Linked DNA regions of Homo sapiens: all the other regions are linked to region 1. Evidence: fine-mapped expression QTL. A gene starts in region 1. Each other region holds a variant in brackets. All regions are shown on one strand. Distances are from middle to middle.

Region 1 (8,177 bases):
TAATTTTACTATCCCTATTTTCCAGCTTTTCTACCATGAGCATGAATTATTTCTACAGAATGGTTCCAAAAATTGTCTGCTTGTCCCCCTCTGGAAGAGGGGGCCCTACTCCCTTCTCCCCTTCCCACCTCCTGTCCCCTCCTCCACCCACTGGGACACTGCCCTCCTCGAGGCCAGAGAACACTTTTCTCTCTTCAAAGATTCTCTTCTTGACCAAACTGAGCTTTGAGCTCCTGAACCTTCTCTTAGACCTATGCATGCACTTCCTTGTAAAATCCAGTTTTAGGAAGAACGTGGCTAAGTCAGGTTACCAACATCCTCCCACCCTGCCTATCTGATCACCCTCGATATCCAACTGGGTTCCCCCTCCTCCACCATCCCCAGGTGATGTCTGACCATCCTGGCCCATCTTCAGCAAGAATCCTGTTAGGTCGGCATAGCCAGAGTCCCCCCATACTCGTCTTAGTAATGTTCCAGCCACCACTCCCACCCTGTTCCTTGGCTATAAATTCCTACTTTCTCATGCTGCATTCGGAATTTAGCCTAGTTCTATACTGGGGTCTCTTACCCCTATTGCAGTAGTCCCAAATAAAATCTGCTTTCACCACTTTAACTACTGTTCAGTTCTGTGGGGTTTTTTTGTTTGTTTTTCTTGAACACCTCCTTATCTTCCTGGATGTTCAGCAGTGTTTGGCATTGCTGATCACACCCCAGTCTCTTCCTGAAACACTCTTTTCCCTTTGTTCTGTGAGCCCACTCCCTCCTTCTTCAGGATAAGATGTGAGCTCCTTTGCATAGCGCACAAGGCCCTCTATGCTGCGGGAACACAGGCTCCTCTTGCCCTCTGCTGCCTCCTCTCCCAGCAATCCTTCCACATATTCTTCTCACCAGCTCCTCAGATACGCTCTGGTTCTATCAAGACGTACTAGGCTGAGCATGGTGGCTCACACCTGTAATCCTAGCACTTTGGGAGGCTCAGCAGGGCAGATTGCTCGAGCCCAGGAGTTCAAGGCCAGTCTGGGCAACATAGGGAAACCCTGTCTCTACAAAAAACACAAAAATTAGCTGGGCATGGTGGCACACACCTGTGATCCCAGCTACTTGGGAGGCTGAGGTGGGAGGATCACCTAAGCCCAAGGAGGTTGAGGCTACAGTGAGCTGTGATCATGCCACTGCGACAGAATGAGACCCTGTCTCAAAAAAAAAAAAAAAAAAAAAAAAAGACAAGCTGCCTTCCTAGTACACATTTTACCTCTTTTCTTCCTCCTCCTCAGTCATCCCTGCATCCCCTATGGAGCAGTTTTTATGTCAGGCATTATGTAAGTACTTTACAACTACACCAACAGGAAATCCACTGCAGAAAACCCCCACTTAGAGTGATTTAGGCATTTATGCAAGGAGAACTTTGTAGAAAAAGTCCAGGGCGTGTATGCAAGCTCATATGCCATCAGCTCCCCAGGCTTGTTCATCCCTAACATGGTAGACTCCAAACTCATGTCTGTGCCTCCTGCTCCCATGATGGCTGCTGTGTCTCCAACACTGTATCCCCTTCCCAGGTAGAAGACAAGGAAGGAGCGAAGAGTTTTCTCCTAGCAAGATAAATCCTCCACAGGGACTTAAGTATATGTGGTCAGTTATGTCACATGGCCCCTTGTAACTGAAATGGGACATGTGTTTTACTTCTCCAGCCTCTATGGTAATAAAAACCAGGAAGAAGGGGGTTGTGAATGGCTTCCGGTTAGCTCATCACCAATGCCTGCCATACATTTCATCTTGTTTCAGTCTCATTTTACCTCATGTAATTCAAGCAATGTTATGATTTAAAGGTTTCTGTTACGTGCATTTCACCAGTGAGAAAATCAAGTCTCAAAAAAATAATACCTACTTTTTACAACCCAGGTCTGCCATCACCTCCTCCTGGCAGAATTCTTTGTATGCCCAACCCTAGGCTGAGTTAGTTATGTGCCCTCCTCTGTGCACCATAGCACCCTAGGCGTGCATCCTTGTTGAAATCTCCAGCTGTCCTAGAGTGGCCTGTGAGCCCCTGCAGTGGGCTGTGAGCCCCACAGGATAAGGCTCTGTAGCCCCCAGGCCTGGGGAGATAACAGGCCTGGAGCTGTACCTATGAGTGTTTGCTGAGTGACAAGCAAGGTGGTGGCCCTGCTCCATGTGGATGTGCCCAGACCCTGGAGCTCTAAAGTATCACATTAGGGAACAGAGACAAATTATAAGGTCCCAGAAGACCCGAGCCACCATGGGAAACGTTGGTGCATGGCTCAGCCAGAGTTCAGAGCACCCCCTGCAGGCTGCGGGTGTCTCTCAGTGACCACAGTGTCCTGAGGCCCAGTGACTTCCTGGGTGGAAACTGAGGCCTGGAGTGTTCCTCCCAGGGCAGTGAGAAAGAGAGAAATAGAAAATCCTTTGCAATGTGGTTTGTGTTACCGCAGCTTCAGCCATGGAAGGGGCTCCTTGAATTAAACAGGAAGCAGAAAATATCAGATTTAGATCCCACATTCCATGCATTGTATACAATTACGCGCTGGAGCCATAGAGGGGCACGTGGGACCCACAGAGGCAGAAAATGGGATTGCTGTTGGGAATGGGGTCGTTCTTTCATGGGAAACCAGTTGCATTCTTGACAGGTGGGCCGAGTCTTCCTGAGGTGCACACTTCACAACCCCAGGGGCACAGGTGAGGCCCTCTCATTTGCTTACAAGGCATTGGTGACAGACATGCTACCAGCTCCCACAATGATGGAGAGTCCCCTTCTCTGCAGCCCCCCAACACCGCTGCATATCTCTGGATTGTAGACCATCCTTGGTGGGCTCACCCCAACTCTCAGGCTCAACAGCCTCCTTTTTACCCATGACTCCTATGTCAGTCTCCAGCCCAGGTCGGCTTCCTGAGGCCCAGGGCCATAAACCCAATCGCATCAATAGGTCCAGCCCTTCAAACACTGCCTGTCTGAAACAGAACCCATCATCCTACCAAAAATATGCTCCTTCTCCAGGTGCCCTGCCACAGAGAATGATACCAATGTCCAGCCACTCACAAGAGCCAAACCATAGTGGTATCTTATCTCTTCCCGCCCACACCCATTGGATTCCCAAGTCTTGACCAACTCCTTCTCCTAAGGCCCTCTTACCCGTCCCCTCTTCTCCACCTGGGTGGCCATCACCCTAGTTCATGGGACCATTGTCTCTTGTCTGGATTGTTCTGCAGTCCAGCTCATCTTCATACCTTCAACATGCTCCAAAACCCTGCCCACGCCCTAGCTGGCCCAGCCACTCCTATGTCCCTGACCCTCTGATGGCGCTGTGTTGGCCTCAGGATCAGGCAAAGCCCTGGCCTTGGTGCACTAGGCTGTCCACACCCTGGCTCCTGCTGGCCTCTTCCCCCTGTTCCCTGGTGTTCCTATCCTGTCGCTAGGGCTTTGCACGTGACATTCCTTCTAATCTATTCTATCCATATTTCTTCAGGTTTTCCCTTGGACTTCAGCTCCTTTAGAAAGCCTTTCCAGACCCCCACCCACTCCCCATGTAGGAGGGCAAAGAAGTCCACTGAAGGCATCTAAAGTGTCTTATTCACTGTGTTTCTGTCTGTTGGATAAATGTGAGTGCAATGGTGACTGCTCGACTGCCTGGCACTACACTCAGACTCCTGGAATGCTGAAGCCTATACTGCTTTCTGTCCAGACCCTGAACTCCCTTTCTCTAAAGTAGGGCATGCCAATTTAAACAAAACACGGAGGACCATTTGCAGCCATGAACACGGCCCTGCAGACGGACAGGCCGATGAGCAGCAGAGCAGACAGGGGTTCCCGCCATCATCCCAGCTCTTCACTGCAGCCTTCAAGGGTCTCCCTCAGAACTTTCATTCATTGTCATACTTCATTCATGATTGCTCATCTTGCCTATAAACAAATCTGAGACAAATAATAAGGCATATCAATGTCCGTATTTATTCAAGAGATACATTGGGGAAAGTCATTTTTCAAAATCTTTTACTGTAGGATTTCTTCACTAAAATCTGTAAAAACTGGTAGATATTGTTGGTGATGCTGGTGGCGGTGGTTGATAGGCTCAGGAAACATGGCTGACATCGCCCTGCCGTGAATTCTGGTATAGTTAAGCCCAGCTTCTCTTTCTTTTTGTCACTGGGGCTCTGGGTGGAGGGAGTAACAGAACAGGGGCAGCAGTTTGCACCTTCTGCTGGCCCTGTTTGCAGACTCAGCTTTTCTTTCCCTGGGCTACGTTGGCAGGTGATACGATCTCTCTGTTCCTCACCCCATGGAGAGGTGAATCTAAAATGAGTGGGTCTGTTAGGGTCTGCATGTCTGTACGTTCCCCTTCTGAGGGGAACTGGCTCCTGGACCCCGTTGCCCTGCTCCAGCTGGGGACCCAAGTGCAGCCATCCCAGGCAGGCCCGGCCCCGGGAGGCCTCCACCAGGGCTCTGCCAAGCAGCAGAGGCTGCCTCTCTAAAGATCCCCTGTCGGGAGAGTGCCTGCCATTTATGGAGCGGGCAGGCAGTAGGAACCAGATAGGCGAGCTAGCTGGAGGCAGCAAGCTCAAGGGGACTGGGCTGCTGCGTGGCGTTCACTGTGCAGCTTGAAGAAGACCCCACGAAGCCTGGACAGAGCCCCAGCTTGGTAAATATTTGTTGACCGATCGGTTGAATGAAATGGTCTTGGGGCAGAGGGGGAGTGGTTTTGTAATGGGGACTGGCGGCGGAAACAGCAGAGTCCCGTCTCTCTAACGGCTAAACTTTAGCGCAAAACAGACACACCGATTAAGGTTCACCGTGTGCCAGGGCCAGGCTGGGCTTCTTCTAGGTGGTTGCGGCGGGCGCGGCTCAGCCTGGGTGCTCCGGAAGCTCCGAGCAGCGCAGGCCGACGGCGACCGTGCGGGACCCGCCCAGCCGCGCTTCCGCCCCGCCTCTGGCCACAGGCGCGAACTGCGCGGCCGCTGCCACCAGGGGGCAGGCCAGGGCAGCGGGAGGCAGGGCGGGGACGCGGTGACGCGGGCACTGCCGGGTCCCGTGACTGCGCGCCCCGCCCGGAGTCCCCGCCGCCGTCATGCAGTCCCCGGCGGTGCTCGTCACCTCCAGGTGAGCCAGACCCCCGCGCCCCACACCGCACAGCTCGCAGTCCGGGGCGCCCGGGCGGAGAGGCGGGGGGAGGCCGCCGCCTCCTAGGCCAGGGACCTGGTGCAGGTCTCCCCAGCGCCCTCGGTGGCTTATCCGGGCTGGGCCCCTGCACCGCCCTGCAGGAGAGGTGGCGACCCCGATTTACAGATGAGGAAACCGAGGCCCTCTGGAGGGTAGAGAACTAGCCAAGGACAGCGGGAGCCCTGGGACTGACTGGTTCAGTGCAGGCGGGCGCAGTGGGGACTCTGCTCTCCTTTCCTACCGCCTTGGGTTCTTCTCTTTTGAGCCCGAAAATCTAGTTCCCCATCCTTTCAGAGCTCCCTGAGTCCCAGGCCCGGTGCTGGGCACTGGGGACAGAGGCGAATCAGACAAGCTCGCCCTGCAGGGGGCTGCAGCGGAGAGGGGGTGATGCCAGCAGCGGGTAGTAAGCTCAGGTTGCCATGGGAACACAGTACAGGGCAGGAACCCGGTTTCTGGGAGGATGAGTTTGATGAGAGACCAGGGAGAGGTCGTTGCTGCTTGCGAGGCAGCTCAGGAGAGCGCAAGTTACAGCAAAAGCCTTGGAGGGGTCCAGGCGGAGGATGCAGAATGGGTCGGCCCTGATCGAGACCTGGAGGACCCAGCCCAAGGTGGATCCTGGCAAGGCTGGGAGGCACGTGCTTTTACTTCTTTCCGCCTTTAAAACGCTGTAAAGTGATTTACTTCAAATATTTTCATACACTTCACCCTTGCTCTCCCTACACAAAGTCTTAGGCTAAGATGCCAATTTATGACATAAATGAACGTGTTACCCAGCCAACTGTTGATCTTCCAGTTGTAATCAGGAATTCCCCGTGACTTCAGGTCTAGAAAGGTATGATTCCTTTTGTAAACCCTGATGTCGGAGGCTGCTTGGTCTTTCATGATCAAGTGTGGTTACAGTTGTATCTTCATGGGCAGAAGAGGTTTCCCTACTGCCACTTACGTCACCTCCTCTCACCAAGCCTCAGTTTCCTTTTCTGTGAATTGGAGGTTTCAGATTGGCAGGCATGAGCAACGTCAGTAGTATATGCCCCTCAGCCATGTGCAGATGGATGGGGTGTGACTTTGGTGCTGGGTGCTTGGGATGGGGTGGGTGGCTTCCCTCCCTGCCCCGCTGCACAGCCTGGACGTGGCTTGTTAACAGATGTGGGGGCGCTGGCGGTGGTAAGGCCACATGAGTCAGGCTCATTTCTTGCTGAGGGCACCAGCACACCCAAGGATCTTGCCTGCAGGGTGAGTCCAAACGCCTTAGCCCAGCAGCAAGGCCGGCCCTTCCCAGTCGCACCCCAGCTCCTCTTTCCAGCCCGATCTCCTCCCACATGTCATTGCCACATGCACTCAAGCTTGAATTCAGCCAGAAGGTGTTTATCGAGAGCCTTCTCTGTACCGGGTACTGGCCCTAGTTCTAGGAGACAAACAAGTCCCTCTCGTAGAGCTTTAATGAGGGCACAGGCCCAGTGGGCAAATCTACGACATGTCAGGGATGATACATGCTATGAAGGAAAACAAAACAGTGGGGGCAACAGAGTGGTAGGAGGCATGCATGCTGTTTTCTATGGTGTGGTAAAGAGGCATCTTTCTGATGGAGTGGCGCCTGGACAGATCCCGGACAAGCTCCATGAGGGAGAGAGCCATGAAAAAGAAATCTTGGAAAAGTGTGTACTGGGAGGACAGGACAGCAGGAGCCAGGGTCCCGAGGCTGGTATGCTGGAGTGGAGTGAGCCCAGGGAGAGTGTTAGGTGATGCGGTGAAGAGGCAAGCTTGGGAGTGAAGGATGATCAGGAAAGGCCGAGAAGGCTGTGGAGGGGCCATCAGATTTAATTTCAAGTGCAATAGGGCCCAACTTCTGGTTTATAGAGATCCTTTGGCTGCTATGCTGAGCATGGGCAGTGGCCGAGCTGAGCATTCAGGACAGGCTTGTAGGTTTCCATGTAGAGCCGGTGGTGGCTTGGCCCGGGGTGATGGCGGCCGTGAGGGTGAGAAATGTTTGGGTTCTCGATATATTTTGAAGATTGAGCTTTCAGGTTTGCTGATGCTTGGATATGGGGTGTGAGAACAAGAAGAGAAGTTAAGACTAACGGCAAGTCTCTCAGCCTAAGCTGCTGGAAGAATGAGGCTGCCCTTTAGCAGGCTTGGGGAGAGGTAGAAGCAGCATTTGTGTAGACAGGTGAGTTTTGAGAAGCTCGTTGACAGCCCAGTGGGGATGTCAGGCAGCTGCAGCTGGAAGGAGGCTGGCTGTGAGGGGAGAGTGAGCTAAAGATGGGAGTTGGGGAGCCATTGGCTCGGAAATGGTATTTAAAGCCTGGAGCCTGGATGAGATCACCTGGGGAGGGGTACAGTGAGAGGAAGAAGGAGGGTGCTCTGGATGCTATCAAGGGGAACCATCCAAAGCAGTTCCTCTCCTCCTGTTTGAGCAAGAGTGGCCAGGGTGGGCAGAGAAGAACCAAGAGTGAGGGGGTGCTCCAGCCACCAGTGAAGGCAGAGCTTGAAGGAGGGGAGTGGCTGACTGTGCCCACTGCTGCTGACAAGTCAGACCAGAGGAGAAATGAGGATTCACCTTTGGATTTAACCACATGGAGGTCGCAGATGACCTGGGCGTGGGCAGTTTGTTGCATGATGAGGACCAAAGTCTGGCTGGAAAGGGTTCAAGATCAAACAGGAGGAGAGGAACCCATGAATATGGGGCCCTCTGTTGAGGAGTTCTGCTGGAAAGGGCAGGAGGGAAACGGAGCAAGGGGAATGTCGGGTCAAAGCACAGCTTTTGTTACATGAGTGGTCAGAGCATGGTTGCATGCTAATAAGCGTGGGCCAGTAAGGAAGGAAAATCGATGGTGCGAAAAAGAGGGGTGAGCTGCAGCAGCTATGTCCTTCAGTAGGTGGGAGGGCCTCGGAGCCGCTGCCCTGGTAGAAGGTTGGCCTTAGGAGCAGCCAGCCAGTTTGTCTACAGTCCCAGGAGAGGGCAGCTATCAGGGAGCAGCTGCAGGCTGATGGGCAGATGTGACAGCGAAGC
Region 2 (8,177 bases), 41 kb after region 1:
GTGGGATTATGGGCTCAGCATGTGGCCTCGGTAAGCCGACTCTTTATTGCTGACTTTCAGAGGCCTGATGCTTCTCTGCCAACTCAGCACATAGCAGCCGCCTCTGAATGGCTTTTTAAATAAAGCTGGGCTAGCTCTCTCCAGGCCAACTGGCCAATCATGTCGTTTGTTTTCCCACATGCAGAGCTCATCCATAAACACTAAGCACGTAATGGGCACCTACCGTGTGCAGTACCTGTTCCAGGCAAGTTGGAGGAAGCAAAGATGAAAAAACTTGAGCCATTAAAGCCAATTCTACCAGGAGCCATGCTGAGCCTCTAGTTTCACTTCTGTTCTCTGGGCCTTCTGCCTGAACCTCAGGCACAACTAAAGGAGGTGCCTCCTCCATGCGGCCCTCTCTGCCTGTCCTTCCCCCTCTGCCACCTGCCAGCATGGACAGTTTGTTACCTGCAGCCTGGGCTCAGCTTTTGTTCCATTTCCTGGAGCTGCCTTGGCAAAGCACCATAAACTGGGTGGCTTTAAACCACAGGAATGTATTATCTCACAGTTCTGGGGGTCACGAGTCTAAAATCAAGGTGTTAGTAGGGCCATGGTCCCTCTGAAATCTCTAGGGAAGGATCCTACTTTGTTTTGTCCTGGCTTCTGGGGGTTTCCTGGCAACACTTGGGGTCCCTTGGTTTATAGCTGTATCACCCCAGCCTCTGCCTTTGTCTTCATATGAGTTTCTCTCCTCTGTGTCTGTGTCTTCACACGGTGTCTTCTCTGTGTCTGTGCCCAAATTTCCCTCTTATAGGAAAGAATACCAGTCATTGGATTACGGCCCACTGTAATCTGATATGACCTCATTTCCCTTTAATTATACCTGCAAAGGCCCTATTTCCAAATAGGAGCACCTTCACAGCGTCCTTGTGGACATGAATTTGAAGGGACGCAATTCGACCCAGTACAGTTACCACCTGTCCTGAGCACGTGGCATTCAGCAGCAAGCAGAGGCCCATTCCATTCTGCAAGGCATGCCCCCTGTGCCATCCCTGTGTACTCTGTGTGTTTCAGCAGTGCCATGTCGGTTTCACTCCCATGTGAGGGGACGTGTCAGGAGGAAGCTGGGCAGGCAGTTGTGTGTGTAGACACCCACCACGGGCCATCATTATAAAGTTCTGTCCTTTGCAGCTGCTGCCAGACATGTCAAATTCTCTCTATCAAAAGCTGGATCTCTTTATTAAATAGTGAAATGACTCCTTAGATAACATGTGGCACAAACTGGAGAGCTGGTGACACTCAGAGCTATCCTGGCTGGCAGGCGGGCAGCGGCGTTCCTTCCTTCCTTCCTCCAGCAGTGCCCCTCTGGAGAAGGCCTTCCCTGGCTGGACCAGCACTGTCTGTTCAGAGCCATAGGCAGCTGAGTCCTGGGGCTCCCCCTTGCCATCACCCCATTATCCTCTCGCTGGCCTCCGAGGTAGTCGGAAAGGGCTCTGAGGATGCTGGCAGTGGGAACTAAAGGCTTCCGGAGCATGGGAGCTGCAGGCCAACTGCCTTTACTGCTGCCTTCTCAAGCTGGTTTTCTTCCTTTGCTGAGATCGCCCTTGACGTCTCCACAGTGTGTTTCTGTTTTTCCTTTTGGTGTTATCGCCACTTTGCTGATTTTCCCCTAACAAGTGCTCTAGGTCCCAGAGGGCAATGTTTTTCTGGATTAGAAAGTAGAACAGCTGATTTCTTGCCCACCTGTTTCTCAGACATCAGAAGCTGCAGAGAGGCTGAGCTTGACTCAGTCCCCCCCATCCCCAGATGGCTTCATTTTACACCTAGGTTGGTTCCAGGACCCTAAATTGGGCTCTGTCTGCTTGTATGGGTGGCCCTAGGATTTGCATCGGGACCTCACAGTCTATAAAATCCATGGCTGTGGAATGGAAAATGGTGCAGCACTTTGGGAAATAGATTTAGCAGTTTTTACAACAAGTAAACATAAATGTACCACACAAATCAGCAATTCCACTCCTAGGCATATACCTAAAGAGAAAGAGAAATATATGTCCAGTCAAAGGCTTGTACACAGATGTTCATAGCAGCTTTATTTATCACAGCCAAAAAGTGGAAACAATGGAAAAGCCTCTCGGCTGGTGAATGGATAAACTAAATGCAGTAAATCCATATAATGGAATATTATTAGATCACAAAAACGAATGGAGTGATACATGCTGCAATATGGATCTACCTCAAATACATCATGTTAAGTGACAGAAGCTAGACTCAAAAGACCACGTATTGTATGATTCTATGTATAGGAAATTTCCAGGACAAATCTACAGAGACAGAAAGATTAATGGTTGCTTCAAGCAGAGGTTGGAACTAACAGTGACTGCAAAAGGGCACAAAGAATCTTTCCCAGGGTGATAGAAATGCTCTAAAGTTGGCTTGTTGTGATGGTTGCACAATTTGATAAGTTTACTAAAATTGTTCAATTGTACACTTAAAATGGGTGATGTTTACGGTATATAAATTATATCTCAATAAAACTGTTAGGATAATTTAATGATTGGAAAAAGAAGGAAACCAACAAATCCATAGGCAGCAGAGTGCAGAGATTAAAAATGTGAGCCAACTCCTGGCTTTTGGGCTTCCTGGCTGTGTGACCCTGGGCCAGTTACTTAACCTCTCTGTGCCCCAATTTCCTCCTCTATAAAATGGGGGTAATAATTTTACCTGCCTCATTAGGGTAGTATAAGGCTAAATGAGTTAATATTTGTAAAGTTATTTGAACAATACCTGATGCATAGTATTCATTATATGTGTGTAATTAACATTCTGTTGAAATTCTGTTAAGCTGCTGTCTATTGGGCTATGAGGAATCCTAGAGTTTGAGTACTCCCTCTCTTCATCTGAGAGTGAACACCAGACATCTTCGTGGAAAGGGGTGCTGATGGCTTGCTCTCCATGGAGGGTGGTTGTAGGTGCGGGAGGAGGCTGTGCCACCCTCTGCCATCTCTCAGCTTCTCTGAACCCCACGCTGCTGAGCAGGGTGATGGCCTGCTTCTGCTGCCTCACCGTGGGGTGGGGGGCATGGGAATGGGCACATACAAAACCACTGGAGACCCAGAAAGGGGCCCTGGGATTGAGGGACCCTGTGTCCAGGGGGCCCTGGTATGTGACTGGGGACTGGATCCAGGTGGGTCATGGAGGTCTACCAAAGGGAGGGTAGATGGAACGAACTGGAAATGAGCCATTCTGACAAGGAATAATGTCAACAGGACTGCGGCAGCGGGGAGTACATTCCAGCTCACCCCACACTCAGAGCAACAACAGCTCTCCCAGCACCATGGAGACAGGAAGTAAACACATCGGTTTCCCTCTCCTGGTCCCTGAACTTTGCGCACGATGTGGTCAAGTGGAGAGAGGTTTCTGGCAGTCCCAGCGGCCCATGGTCAGGCTGGCCTGTATCCCTTTCTCTTTACCCCTTGGGATTTCCCAGCTTCCTTATCAACCCTCAATCACTTTGGGAGGGAGTGAGCCAGCGTTCCCCCTTCCTTCGAAAAGAAGCCACACACACAAAGACTTAGACACGAATGTTCACAGCAACATTATTCATAAGGGTTCCTCCCCCAAAGGAAACAACCCAAATATCCATCAAACAAACGGTCAAT[G/A]AACAAGCAAACAGTGGCACATGGATGCAGCGGAATGCTGTGCAGCGTCAAAAAGGAAAAACCCTCTAACAGACATACCACAATGGATATCACAAACATGCTAAGTGAAAGAAGCCAGACCCCAAAACTATATCTTGTATGATCCCACATATATGAAACCCTAGAAAAGGCAAAATTGTAGTGACAGAAAGCAGACCCATGGTTGCCAGGGGCTGGGGATGGGCAGGACAGGAGTGGTTGGCTGCAAGGGGCCATGAGGCAGCTTTTGGGAGTGATGGAAGTGTGCTACGCTGTGAGCATGACTATAAACGTTCACCAAAACTCATCAAACTGTGCACTTAAAATGGGAACATTTGATTATACGCGAATTATATCTCAATATACCTGTGGAAACCACAGTACAAAACTGAACATACTCTTACCATACTCTCCAGCATTTGTGCTCCTTGGTATTTACCCAAAGGAGTTAAAACTTATGTCCTCACAAAAATCTGTACATGGATGCTTATAGCAGCTTGATTCACAATTACCAAGACTTGGGAGCAACCAAGATGTCCTTTGGTAGGTGAATGAGTAAACAGACTGCAGTATATCCAGGTGATGATTCCACTGAGCATTTAATTCAGTGCTAAAAAGAAATGTGCTATCGAGCCATGAAAAGATATGGAGGAAACTTAAATGCCTATTACTAAGTGAAAGAAGGCAATCTGAAAAGGATATATATGTTGTATGATTCCAGCTATCTGACCTGGAAAAAGCAAAACCACAGAGACCATAAAAAGATCAGTGGTTTCTGGGGTTCAAGGGGAAGAGAGGGATGAATAGGAGGAGCACAGAGGATTTTTAGGGCAAAAACTTATCTGTATGATACTCTCATGGTGGATCCGTGGCATTATTCATTAGTTTAAACCTACAGAATGCACCGCACCAAGAGTGAACCCTAATGTATGCTATGGCTCTGGGTGATAAGGAGGCGTCCATGTGTCCATGTAGGTTCACTGGTAAATGTCCCACTCTGGTGCAGGCTGTTGCTGGTGGGCGAGGCTGTGCATGTGTGGGGGCAGGAGGCATGTGGGGACTTTGTACTCTCTGTTCAATTGTGCTGTGAACCTAAAACTGCTCTTTAAAAAAAATCTACTTAAAAATAAAAAAGGAACCACAGGGAGGAAGCTCATGAAGTAGAAGATGCCTGCTGCCCCAAGATACCTGGTATCCCCAGACCATGCCCCACCTTTGGTGATAGCCCCCACAGTCCCCAGGGTACCTGGGCTCCAAGTGAGGCTTAGCAAACGTTTCACTGATGGTGGGAGGGGTTTCCAGTCCAGTAAATGGGAAAAACTGAGTCAAGGGGCTGGGGGCACCCTCTGAGGGAAAGGACACCTCCAGAGTCCTCTGGAGCAATGAGGGGTCAGAATCCTCAATTGGCCTGGAAGTCCTGGCACCAACTGGCCTTTGTTCCTTGACAGCATCTCTCTCCTCCTCTGTACGATTTCCAGCTTTTCTTTTTCTTCCTCTAGTTACCCTGTGTTGTCCTGGACAGGTGAATGGGGAGAATTAACTGCATGGTGGCTCAGGGCCTACTGGCACAGTATGGGATGACACACAGCTGAGCAAATCCACAGAGCGGCTCAGCCCAGCCTTCCCTCCTCTCCCCCACTCCTGGAATGAAGCCAAGAGGAGCCTCAGTATTCGGAAAACTGTTCAATGTGCTCCCTAGAGAAGGCTCCAAGAGCTGAGCTACAACAGGCCTCACGAGAACAGGCCTTTTCCTGGAGGAGAGCTCAGAGGTCCCCCCGGGCCCCTGGAACGGCTTTGAAGTGGCAATCTTACTGAAGGTCTCCACCAGGACCCCTTTGGCTTGGGGAGTGCATGGTCCTTTGCTGGGATGCAGGAAGGCTGCTGTGGGTTCTCATGTGGCAGAGAGCGAGGACTAGAGCCCTGAGAACCTGACTTCTCACAGGCACTATTAGAGCAGCAGGCCAGGATCCTGATGCAGCGCCTGGCGGCCTCTGCCCCCAAGGACGGTGCTCATCCTGCAGCTACCCATGGGTGGAGAGCCACAGAGCAGGGGCCCTTGAACACCTGTGTTTCTTGGATGGGCATCAGTTCTCTCTGGGCTCCTGCCAATCAGGCCAACAAGGTTTTGGGGTTTGTTTTCCCTGTAGCCAGGCGGGCTCAGACATAGCTCTTCTCAGCAAGCCTGACCTCTTAGGCTTTTCAGGACCTCAGCATTTATGAAGTGTGCCTCAGGCCTCTTCATGCTCAGAGCTGTGGGAGAGGGCCAGGGAGGAGAGATGCATGACTAGTTGGAGCCACAGGAGTGAGGCATAGGAACTCCGCAAAAAACTCTTGGTTTGAAAGATAGAGCACTGAATCAGAAAGTGGAGGGCAGAGGTGGGGACTAGAGGATGTGAGTGTGGCAAAGGCTGGAGAACTGGTTTCCTTGGGGCAGCAGAGTGAGCAAGGGTGACAGCCGGACACCCTGGAGAAAGTAGAGGATGAGCCAATGAGAGTCAAGAAAACACTTGGTGAAAGACAGAAATCTTTGCCCGAAGATCAGGAACAAGACAGGATGCCCGTTTCTGCTACTTCTTTTTTTTTTTTTTTTTTTTTTGAGACGGAGTTTCGCTCTTGTTGCCCGGGCTGGGGTGCAATGGTGCAATCATGGCTCACTGCAAACTCCACCTCCCGGGTTCAAGAGATTCTCCTGCTTCAGTCTCCCAAGTAGCTGGGATTACAGGCATGCACCACCACAGCCAGCTAATTTTGTATTTTTAGTAGAGACGGGGTTTCACCATGTTGGTCAGGCTGGTCTCGAACTCCCAACCTCAGGTGATCCTCCCGCATCGGCCTCCCAAAGTGCTGGGATTACAGGCATGAGCCACCACACCCGGCCTGTTTCTGCTACTTCTATGCAATATTGTACTGGAAGTTCTAGCCAGAGAAACTAGGCAAGAAAAAAAAAAGACATCTAGATAGTAAAATAAGCAGGAGAACCACATTTATTTGCAGATGACATGATCTTACATGTAGCTGATACTAAAGAATCTACAAAAAAACTATTATAGCTAATATATGAATTTGACAAAGTTGAAGGATACAATATTAACACAAAATTAGTTATATTTCTATACACACTACAAAAGGAAAATCAAGAAAACGATTCAATTTACAATAGCACCAAACACAATAAAATAACTAGAAATGAATTTAACAAAGGGAGGGGAAGACTTGAACATTGAAAACTATGTAACACCGCTGAAAGAAATTAAATAAAATTTAAGAAAATAAAAAGACATTCCATGTTCATTGATTAGAAGACTTGATATTGTTAAAATGACAGTAATCTCCAAATAGATCTACAGATTTAATGCCATGCTTATCAAAATCCCAATGTGATGTTTTTACAGAAATGGAAAAGCTAATCCTAAAATTTGTATGGAATTACAAGGGACCCTGAATAGCTAAAGCAATCTTCAAAAAGAAGAGCAAAGTTGGAGGACTTATACTTCCCAATTTCAAAAGTCACTACAAAGTTACAGTAATCAAAACAGTGTGGCACTGGCACAGGATAGACATATAGATCAACTGGATGGAATTAAGAGTCCAGATATAAACTCATACACGTGTGGCACTTGATTTATGACAAGGGTGCCAAGACCATTCCATGCAGAATAGCCTCCCAAGAAATTGTATTGGAGGGGACATCCACGTGTAAAAGAATGAAGTCAGAGGCCAGGTGTGGTGGCTCATGCCTGTAATCCCAGCACATTGGGAGGCTGAGGTGGGCAGATCACTTGAGGTCAGGAGTTTGAGACCAGCCTGGCCAACATGGTGAAACCCTGTCTCTTCTAAAAATACAAAAATTAGCTGGGCATAGTCATGGGTGTCTGTAACTCCAGCTACTCAGGAGGCCAAGGCAGGAGAATTGCTTGAACCTGGGAGGTGGAGGTTGCAGTGAGCTGAGACCACACCACTGCACTCCAGCCTGGGCGATGGAGCAAGACTCTGTCTCAAAAAAAAAAAAGAATGAAGTTGCACCCTACCTCATACCATATGCAAAAATTAACTCAACATAAATCAAAGACCTAAATATAAGAGCTATTACTATAAAACTCTTAATAAAAATATAGGGTAAGTCTTCATGACCTGAGATTTGGCCATGGATTATTAGATATGACACCAAGAGCACAAGCGGCCAAAAAAAAATAAAAAGATAAATTGATGAATTTATCGAAACTAAAAACTTTTGTGCTTCCAAGGACAACATCAAGAGAGTGAAAGACAACACAAAGAATAGGACAAAATGTTTGCAAACCATATATCGTTTAAGGATCTAGTGTCTAGAATATATAAAGAACTCCTACAACTCAACAACAAATAACCCAATTTAAAAATTGGCATAGGATTTACATAGGCATTTATTCAAAGAAAATATACAAAGGACAACAAACACATGAAAATATGTTCAGTGTCTTTTTGTCTGACATCTTAGCGAGGCTGTAGCGTTCACCGCTGCTCTCTGAGCTTTGCAATGCC
Region 3 (8,177 bases), 27 kb after region 1:
CAGAGCGGAACACCCTGTGTGCTAATGAACAGTTTCCTTTTTTTTTTTTTGAGACAAAGTCTCACTTTGTCACCCAGGCTGGAGTGCAGTGGTGTGATGTGAGCTCACTGCAACCTACATCCCTGGGGTTCAAGCGATTCTTATGCCTCAGCCTCCCGAGTAGCTGGGATTACAGGCATGCACCACCATGCTACGCTAATTTTTGTATTTTTAGTAGAGATGGGATTTCATCATCTTTGCCAGGCTGGTCTCAAACTCCTGGCCTCCCGTAAACTTTTTGCTTTAAACTAAAGCACTTTTCATATTTTATTCTTAAATTCACCCACCTCAGCCTCCGAAAGTGCTGGGATTACAGGCATAAGCCACCTCACTCGGCCATAATGATCAGTTTCTATGTGACCCTGCTCTGCCATGAGCTTCTGGGGACAGCGGCGGCTCGTCCTCATCTTTGTTCCCTCGTCCCCAGCACAGGTTCTTGCAGGTGGGAGGTTCTCAGTGAGTGCTCGCCATCAAAGGTGCCCACGAGGGAAGGAATGAGTTGCTCATAGAGTGGCTGAGGGCCTGGTGGCAAGCCCAGTGGAGTCGGCCAGGAGATCTTCGGAGGAGGGGCTTTCGCACATAGGGCGCTGTCTGAGACTGGGGTTGGGAGCCTATCCCTCTTCCCTCCCTGCCCCTCCCGCCTTGGGGATTAACAGAATCCTGAGATGGAGATGTGCTGGCACCCTGCTCCCTGCCTACCTGTCCTCCACCTGTCCATCCCTCCTCCCCTCCATCCATCGCGCATCCTCTCATCCAGAGTTTATCAAGGCATCTGTTATGGACCAGGCACATTACTAAGCCCCCAGAGGCTGAAAGTTTTGGGCCGCTCAGGATAGGACCCTGGGGCTTTTAGGCACCAAAACTCCATATTTCCTGCTTCTTCCTTGATTCCCCTGAAGATGGGTCTAGAGAGTTGGGGAGGTAGAGAAGGCAGCCCAGGCAGCATGGGTGGGTGGGGGTAGGGTACAGACCATGCCTGCTGGAGCCGCCCGCGTGTGCTGTAGATCCACTTTATTTCAGTTCAGGACAACAAAAGGGCAAACATGTCTCTAGGGAGAAAAACAAGGACATGATCCAGTTGGAGGAGAAAACTCACATGGAAGGAAAGTTAGGCCTCTTGTGTGCTGTCCAGACCAGGTGCAGGCGTAGGAAGGGGCACCACGGCTTCTCCAGAGAGACCTCCTCGCGCCTGTTCTCTCTCGCTTCCCTTGTTCCTCAGATGGCTCGCTTCCCTCTCTGCGCCCTCTGATTTCTGGTCAATGCAAAGCCTCTTGCTCCCCTGCCCCGAGGGGCCCGTGGCTGGTTACATGCAAGTTCAATCCCCAGGAGCCAGGGAGGGCCTGCTTGTTTCTGAGCAGACAGTGTGGGGTGTGGCATGGAGCTGCTGCTGGGGGAGGCTGCAGAGCAGCCTCAGACCTGCCCTCCCTGAGAGCTGCCACCTGGGTAGGGGCCGGGGTGGCTCTCCACCCTTCCCCACCGCAGTGCCTGCTGGGGCCAGGAGCAAGGGCCACGCAAAGGGCGGCAGAGATGGGGAATGAAGGGGAGAGAAGCATCGGGCAGAACAGTGGCTGCGAGCCTGGCTGACCGTGGAATTCCACAGGAGACTGAACACAGCCTCCTGGGCCTGCTTGGGGTTTCCGACTCAGTGGGTCTTGGCTGGGGTCAGCTTTGCTGTCTGCCCCAGGAGGCCATGGCCCTTGTTTGGTACCCACTTCCTAGGAGTCATGAGAGCCGAGCTGGCTCTGCCTGATTGGTAAGAATAAAGGGGAGAATGTCTGAGTAAGAGCAGGCGAGCCCTGGCTCCTCCAGGTCTCAGAGGAGCAGAAGCTGAAGATTTCTGGAAAGCACTTGCCCTTAGGGTGGAGAATCGAGGCTCCCTCCACCTCACCTCCAGCACCACAAGCAGGGCCTGAGGGTGGTGCACAGCAGAGGAGGTCCCTCATGGCCTGAGCTGGGTGGAGAAAGCACAGGACCAGGCAGATGGGCCTTCTTGGAGCAGTCCCTGCCACTGCGTCTCTGCTCCCCATCACTACCCTTGAAACATGCCACTTTCTCCCCAGAGAACAGCAGGATCAATCCTGTTATCCCTGCGCCATCCTATATCACCTTCCTCATGGGACATTTGGAGGGGACAAGAGGATAGGACCATGAGTATGACCATCCTCAATCTAGACCCAGCCTGCCTGTCCCTTCCCTGCTGTGTGGCCTTGGGCAGACACTCAGCTTCTCTGGACCACTGTTTCCTCATCCAACAAACGAGCCCTGCAGAGATCCTTCCCCTGGGACTGGGCTCTGAGCTCAGAGGATGCTCTGTCCTGCAGCCTTCCAGCAGGGAACCTTCCAGCAGGGAGCCTTCCTGGCTTTCATAGTTTCTCCTCGCCTCGGCTGGGTGCCTGGGATTCTGCCAGACCTCAGACTCCAGACTGTGGGAATGGTCACCTTGCGGGGACCTGCCCCTCCAGCACCCAGGGCCATTCTGCTATTTTTATCTGCCATTGGTTAATCTGTATCATTGTGTAGGCCAGCCTCTCGGTGCAGTTTTGCCGCAGCGTGTTACCAACATGAGCTCAGATGGTGACCTCACATAGTGACCTCAGTCCAGTGGAACTGCCCGCCAGGCGGACAGGCACACGGAATTTCAGTTTCCAGTAAAGAGCATATTCTCATTATTTTCAGGAACCTTAAAATGGCTAATAGACATCATCAGCAGGGATTGAATGCCTGTTAAAGTAATTATTAAAGTAAAATCAAGTGTGTTTACTTACTGGCGGTATCACTTACAGTGACGTACACAGATCCTGAGCATTCAGCTCCATGCGTGTTTACTTATCCAGCCCGTAACTACCGCCTGGATCAAAACTAAAGTACTCCTACACCCCAGAAGCTTCCATCCTGCCCCGTCCTGGTTTCTTACAGCAGGGTCTGGCCCAGAGCAGGACCTCCTCAGCCAGTCGGCAAGTGCACTGTAATGGGACCTGGGGTGGCAGAGTCGGAGCCGGGGAGGTGGGCAAGTCCCAGAGAGGCTTCCTGAAAGAGGGGGGCTGCTCCACAGAACCCAAGTGTTAACTAGAACAATGGTGGTTTTACCATGCAAAGGAAACAATAAGGCACTTACCAAAGCTGCTTTCTGCCCTCCTGAGTCCTAGCCCTGAGGTTTGTGGCTCAAGACCAGGTCCATCCCCATTTCTGAGTGGCTGTGGAGTGTGGTTCTCTGAGCCTGGCCCCCAAGTGCTGAGACCCTGAGACCAGGCAGCTGTCTCTACCTTCCGAATGGGAGTGTGATCTCTGGCCTGTGACCGCATGGCAGACTCAAGGCCTGAAGGCGTCTAAGAGCTGGGGTTGTCTGGCAGCTGGTGCCCGGTCCTGGCAGCCGCCTGCTCCTCCTGACAGTGGTCATTTCTTGAACACAGGGCACAGCTGCCCACAGTAGCGGGGGCCTTACCACTCTGTCATTGGGGAAACCTGCTTCTCAACCACCTTCGCTGGCCTGCTTTTCTCCCCTGGGATGGAGGACCTGTCCTTCCCTTGGCCGTGTGACCATCTGTTAGAGATTTCAGAAAGACTTCAGCTCCACCTGCCTGGACTGCTCTGGGTGGCCCCCTCCAGGACTTCCCTGGTCCCTCTGGCCTGGTCTTTTCTGGCCCATGGCATCCAGCCCCTCCACTGCAGGGCCCAGCGCCTGTGTCGGTCTGACCGGACCACCTGGACACTTGT[G/A]GGAAATCCTCACCTTGTGCTTTGTCTGTGATTCTCCAGCTCCAAGAAGCCCAAGAAACATCCCAAAGTGGCCGTGAAAGCCAAGCCCTCGCCCCGGCTCACCATCTTTGACGAGGAGGTGGACCCTGATGAGGGGCTCTTTGGCCCGGGCAGGAAGCTGTCTCCACAGGACCCCTCGGAGGACGTGTCATCCGTGGACCGTAAGTAGAGCCCCATGGTCTGCTCCTGGTGTCCTCTCGGTGCCCAGCCCCATCACCAGGCAGGGTCTGGACTCACCCGGCGTGAATAGGACCCATATATCTCCCCTGTCCTGTTTAGATGTGATATAGACTCAGCTTTGTGCTTCCATGACATCTGTGGGCAGATGTGGGCCCTGGGCTTCCAGGCACTGTTTGTGTGGTAAGCGATAGGGCCTGCCTAGGGCACATGTGTGACTGTAGGTTTGGATTTAATGGGACTCTGTGTCGCCTGCATGGACTCTGCTGGAGGGCTCTGTGCAGAGTTGGCAGAGGGAAAACCGAGCGGCCTTGGGACATCTCCACTCATCCCTTGGTCCCTTTCCTCACATGCCCAGGTCGTCCTCCGGTGAGGGGAATTGATGCCACCCACTAATTCAGCCCATACTTGGTGAGCCCTCACTGAGGGCCAGGCCCAAGAACATGCTGAGGAGTGAGACCTAGTCCCTGTCCCTAGTCCCTATCCCGAGGGCCCCGGGGGCCCCTGGGGAGACAGGTCATTGCCTGACAGTTACAAAGCAGCACCAGTTATGACAGGTTGAGCAGAGGCATCAATTCCTGTAGGACTGCCCAGAAGACTTCCTGGGGTGGGGCAGAGAGAGAGCAGCCATGGCATCCCAGCCTAGAGGCTTCCTCTGACCCCCCTGCTGCTGCCTTCCCACAGCCCTGAAGCTATTTGATGATCCTGACCTCGGCGGGGCCATCCCCCTGGGTGACTCCCTCCTGCTGCCAGCCGCCTGTGAGAGTGGAGGGCCCACACCCAGCCTCAGCCACAGGGACGCCTCCAAGGAACTGTTCAGGTACCACCTGTCCCCAGCGGCGCTTGGCCAGCTCTGAGAGTGTTCTGGACAGAGCCAAGGGCCCGGCTCATTGCCCAGTCTCAGCCCCAGCCTCCTCTGAGGGGAGGACCCCAGGCCTGTGAAAAGTAGAAGCCTGTGGGTGCACATTGGGTGAGAGGCGGTGAAGGGGGCTGAGGGGGAGGATCCGCAGCCCAGGGCTGCTCAGCTAGTTCCAGAAAGAGAGAACTTTGTGTGCACAACCAGTCTTTCTTTTCACAATCATATTTTAACAGTTTATGTAAAGAATAATTAAATTATATAATTGCAAGAGCAGGTATAACTGGCATAAGCAAGTTTGGGAACAAATTAAACGGACTCATGGCAGCATGCAGCCCACCCAGCGAGGGGGCAAAGTGCAGATGTCTTGGTGATGGCCTCTCTGCCGGAGGGCCCGGTCGGCAGCTTTCACAGAAGGAAGGGAGAATGAGGCCTCAGCTGTCACATGGAGGTCAATTGGCAGAACCTGTGCCGGTGACAGCTCCTATTTCCTGAGTCCTTGCTGTGTACGCAGTAAGCCAGACTCCTTACACGCTCTCTTATGTAATCTTCACGACAGCCCCCTAAGGTGGATGCTATTTTCTCCATATTATAAGAAATCAAGTGTGGGACGCCACCTGGCTAAGACCCCTGCTCTGCCCCTGGCCTGGCCTCTCCACTTCATCAGGGACTGTCTGAGCACTTGGCTGGGTGATCTGCCTCCCCACCCAGCCCCCCAGTTCTCCCCAGGCCTTTACCTCCACTGGCCACATTCTCAGCAGACTCAGTGTTGTGCGTGTCTCCAGCTCCCACTCCATGCTCCAGGACACAGGACTGTGCCTGGGATTCAGAGGAAGCCAGGCCGCCTCTTTCCAGGAACGGCTTATGTGACACCAAGGCATGCAGGCCCTGGAGGCTGTCATCTGTACCCCTCATTAGCAGCCTCGGGCTATTAGACAGCCCTGCAAGTGCCCGCCAAGCCTGAGTCACCGTGACGGCTTCTGGTATTTACATGTCCCCAAGGCCCCTGGCATCTGTTCACTCTCATCCTGTGTCCTCGCTCCTGACATCCCAGCGGGCTGGAAGAAACCAGGATTGTTATTTTATTAGAGGGAAACCGAGGCACAGGGAAATGAAATACTAGAGTCTGCCTGCGGAGCAGCAGGGCCAGGCCGAGCATGTCTAGGAGTCCATGTGTCCCAGTGGGGTGGCTCTCGTGGGACCTTTCTGGCCTAGTTTATTCTAAATCCGTTACTTCCCAACCTGTGTTCTGCAGAACGTGGTACAGTGGGGTGGTCAAAGGCTATCTTCAAAGGGGCTCTGTGGCTGATGAATTGGGGAAATGCCACAAAAAGCAGGGCTCGTAGTGCGCGGGCCAGCACCACATGGCACTTCACGTTCTCATTCATCCCTGGGCCCCCCACTCTGTGGTGCCCCTTAGCATCCCGCAGAGCGCTTGGGGAGTCCCTGCTCAAAAAGTGTGGGTCCCGCACCCCCACCTTCACTTTAGCAGACATCTGCTAATGAAAGGATTAACTGCTTTTCTTTTTTTTAAATTCAGACAAATTCAAAAAGAGCCGTAACACTGGGATTAGCTTCTTGAGAGCAGGAACCACATTCATTCTTTGTGTCTGCCCTGTGACTATCCAGGGAGTAGTTGGACTTCCTCATAATAAAGAATGTTCTGATAGCCATTCATTCATTCATGCTTTCACCCCTTCGTTCATTCTGTCACTAGCCTCAGCCACCCTGAGGCCGCGTGGGGTGTACACTGAGCGGGTCGAGGCTAAGAAGGCTTTGTTCCTTCTGGCTGTGCAGCCACACCAGGGCAGGGCCTCTAGTCTAGATGTTTAGGTGAGTCTTGTCTTCCGCAGGAACCCAGGGAGAAGGAATGGGGCCAGGGTCTTAGAGCTCCCTTACCCCCCACTGGTTGACCTCACACCAGCTGGGCCTGGAGGAGAAAAGAGCTGGACCTTGCGCTAGTGAGAGCTAGTCCTAGTCATGACTCAGAAATAGGGTGCTTGGAAAAGGGGTGCCTTGCAGCCTCCTGTGTCCCAAGAGCAGCTATGCTGCCTCCCACCGTGGCTGACCACCCGTGTACACCACCCACCTGGGAGCAAATCCAGCTGCTGATTAGTTCCAAAGAGTCACTGCTTTGCCAAGCAGGCTAATCCTGAAATCTGACATAAGCCTCTAGCGGCTGCTTTATTTTCCAAAGGGCCCCTATTTGAGGATAATTCAGTCCCTTTGAGCTTTTCCCAGGTACCCTCAGCCTTCAATGGAGGCTGCATCATGCCAGTGGAGCTGGCACCTGCCCTGGGGGAGTCAAGGAAGGGCTGCCACTTGGAGGGAGCTCCGGAACATCTGACCTGAGGTGGCCAGGAGCAGACTGGCCATGAGTGACACCTCCTGAAATCACCTCTACCCCAAGACAGCTGGTCTGTCTATGAAGGCCCGGCTTGGGCCAGTCCCTCTGGGTTTGTTCAAGAAGGACACCTTTTATTCATTTCTCTGCCATCCAAACAGACTCTGAATTCTCTCTCTGGGGTTTGTGCCCCATCACAGGAGGTTGAGCCAGGAAGCAGGCAGGGTGTCCGGAGCTCCTTCCACAGCTGGCTCCAGGCAGGCATCCACCCCTGGGGGTGCTGTGCTGGACACCTCCATACTCACACAGGCTCTCTGGTAGTGCCAGGAGTTGTCCTGATCAGAGGTATCGCCTCTCTATCCCCACCCCTGCCCGGCCCTGCCCCAGGGCAAGAAGCCGCTGCTCATGAGCCTGCCTGGTTCTTCCTGTTCATTCTCATTCCCACCTCCAGACCTCTGCTGTCTGCTCCCTTCTTCAGAATTCTCTCCCCTATTCATGCCAGGCTCACCCTTCTGAAAAGACCCACCTTCCCAGGAGGCCTTCCCAGCCTGCTCTGGCCCAAGGGCTCACTCCCTTCTCTGGACTTCAACACCTTCTTTCCAGGCCTTTGCAATTATGTGGCCCCTGTCTGACTGGGCTGGGGGGTGTCCCTCATTGTAGGTGGAGGCACTGCTTTTCTGTGTCTTATGCCCACTTGCTCAGCCCCTGTGGCTGTCAGTAGACATCAGTACATACAGCCTTCCTGTACATTTGGAAACTACTTTCCTTGTGTTGTCTTATTTGATCCTTGTAAGAATCCCTGTGAGGATGGTAGAGCAAGTACAATCCCACTTTATAGAAGAGACTGAGGACCAGGGAGGAGGAGTGGCCTGAGGCTGCCTGATGGAGGAGTTGCAGGGTGAGGAACGGAAGCCAGTTCTCCTCCTGCAGTGCTGTGCTTCTGTGTACAGTTCCGTGCAGCAGTGCCAGTGACACTGTTACTCCTGCTTGTAGATGAGGAAGCCGAAG

The links. PIP is the estimated chance that this variant, and not a neighbour inherited with it, causes the effect.
Region 2: its variant is fine-mapped to the expression of HS1BP3 in whole blood (TOPMed, PIP 0.98).
Region 3: its variant is fine-mapped to the expression of HS1BP3 in whole blood (TOPMed, PIP above 0.99).

Annotation. Positions count from the first base shown.
Region 1 is chr2:20,647,962-20,656,138 of GRCh38, reverse strand. It overlaps HS1BP3 (HCLS1 binding protein 3), which reads left to right and starts at 5,041. Exons shown (of 7, transcript NM_022460.4): 1 at 5,041-5,107. The coding sequence starts at 5,076. It overlaps LOC105373466 (a long non-coding RNA gene), which reads right to left and starts at 4,857. Exons shown (of 2, transcript XR_001739320.2): 1 at 4,787-4,857; 2 at 3,939-4,164. RefSeq lists enhancers at 4,623-5,360, 5,445-5,594, 5,615-5,694 and a silencer at 4,775-5,364.
Region 2 is chr2:20,606,650-20,614,826 of GRCh38, reverse strand. It overlaps a transcript of HS1BP3 not described here and the pseudogene RPS25P3. Among named protein-coding and RNA genes, the nearest start is that of HS1BP3-IT1, 18 kb to the right of the region's middle. RefSeq lists an enhancer at 5,163-5,662. The variant G/A (reference allele first, on the strand shown) is at 3,639.
Region 3 is chr2:20,620,508-20,628,684 of GRCh38, reverse strand. It overlaps HS1BP3 (HCLS1 binding protein 3), which reads left to right. Exons shown (of 7, transcript NM_022460.4): 5 at 3,793-3,953; 6 at 4,654-4,789. Among named protein-coding and RNA genes, the nearest start is that of HS1BP3, 27 kb to the left of the region's middle. The variant G/A (reference allele first, on the strand shown) is at 3,754.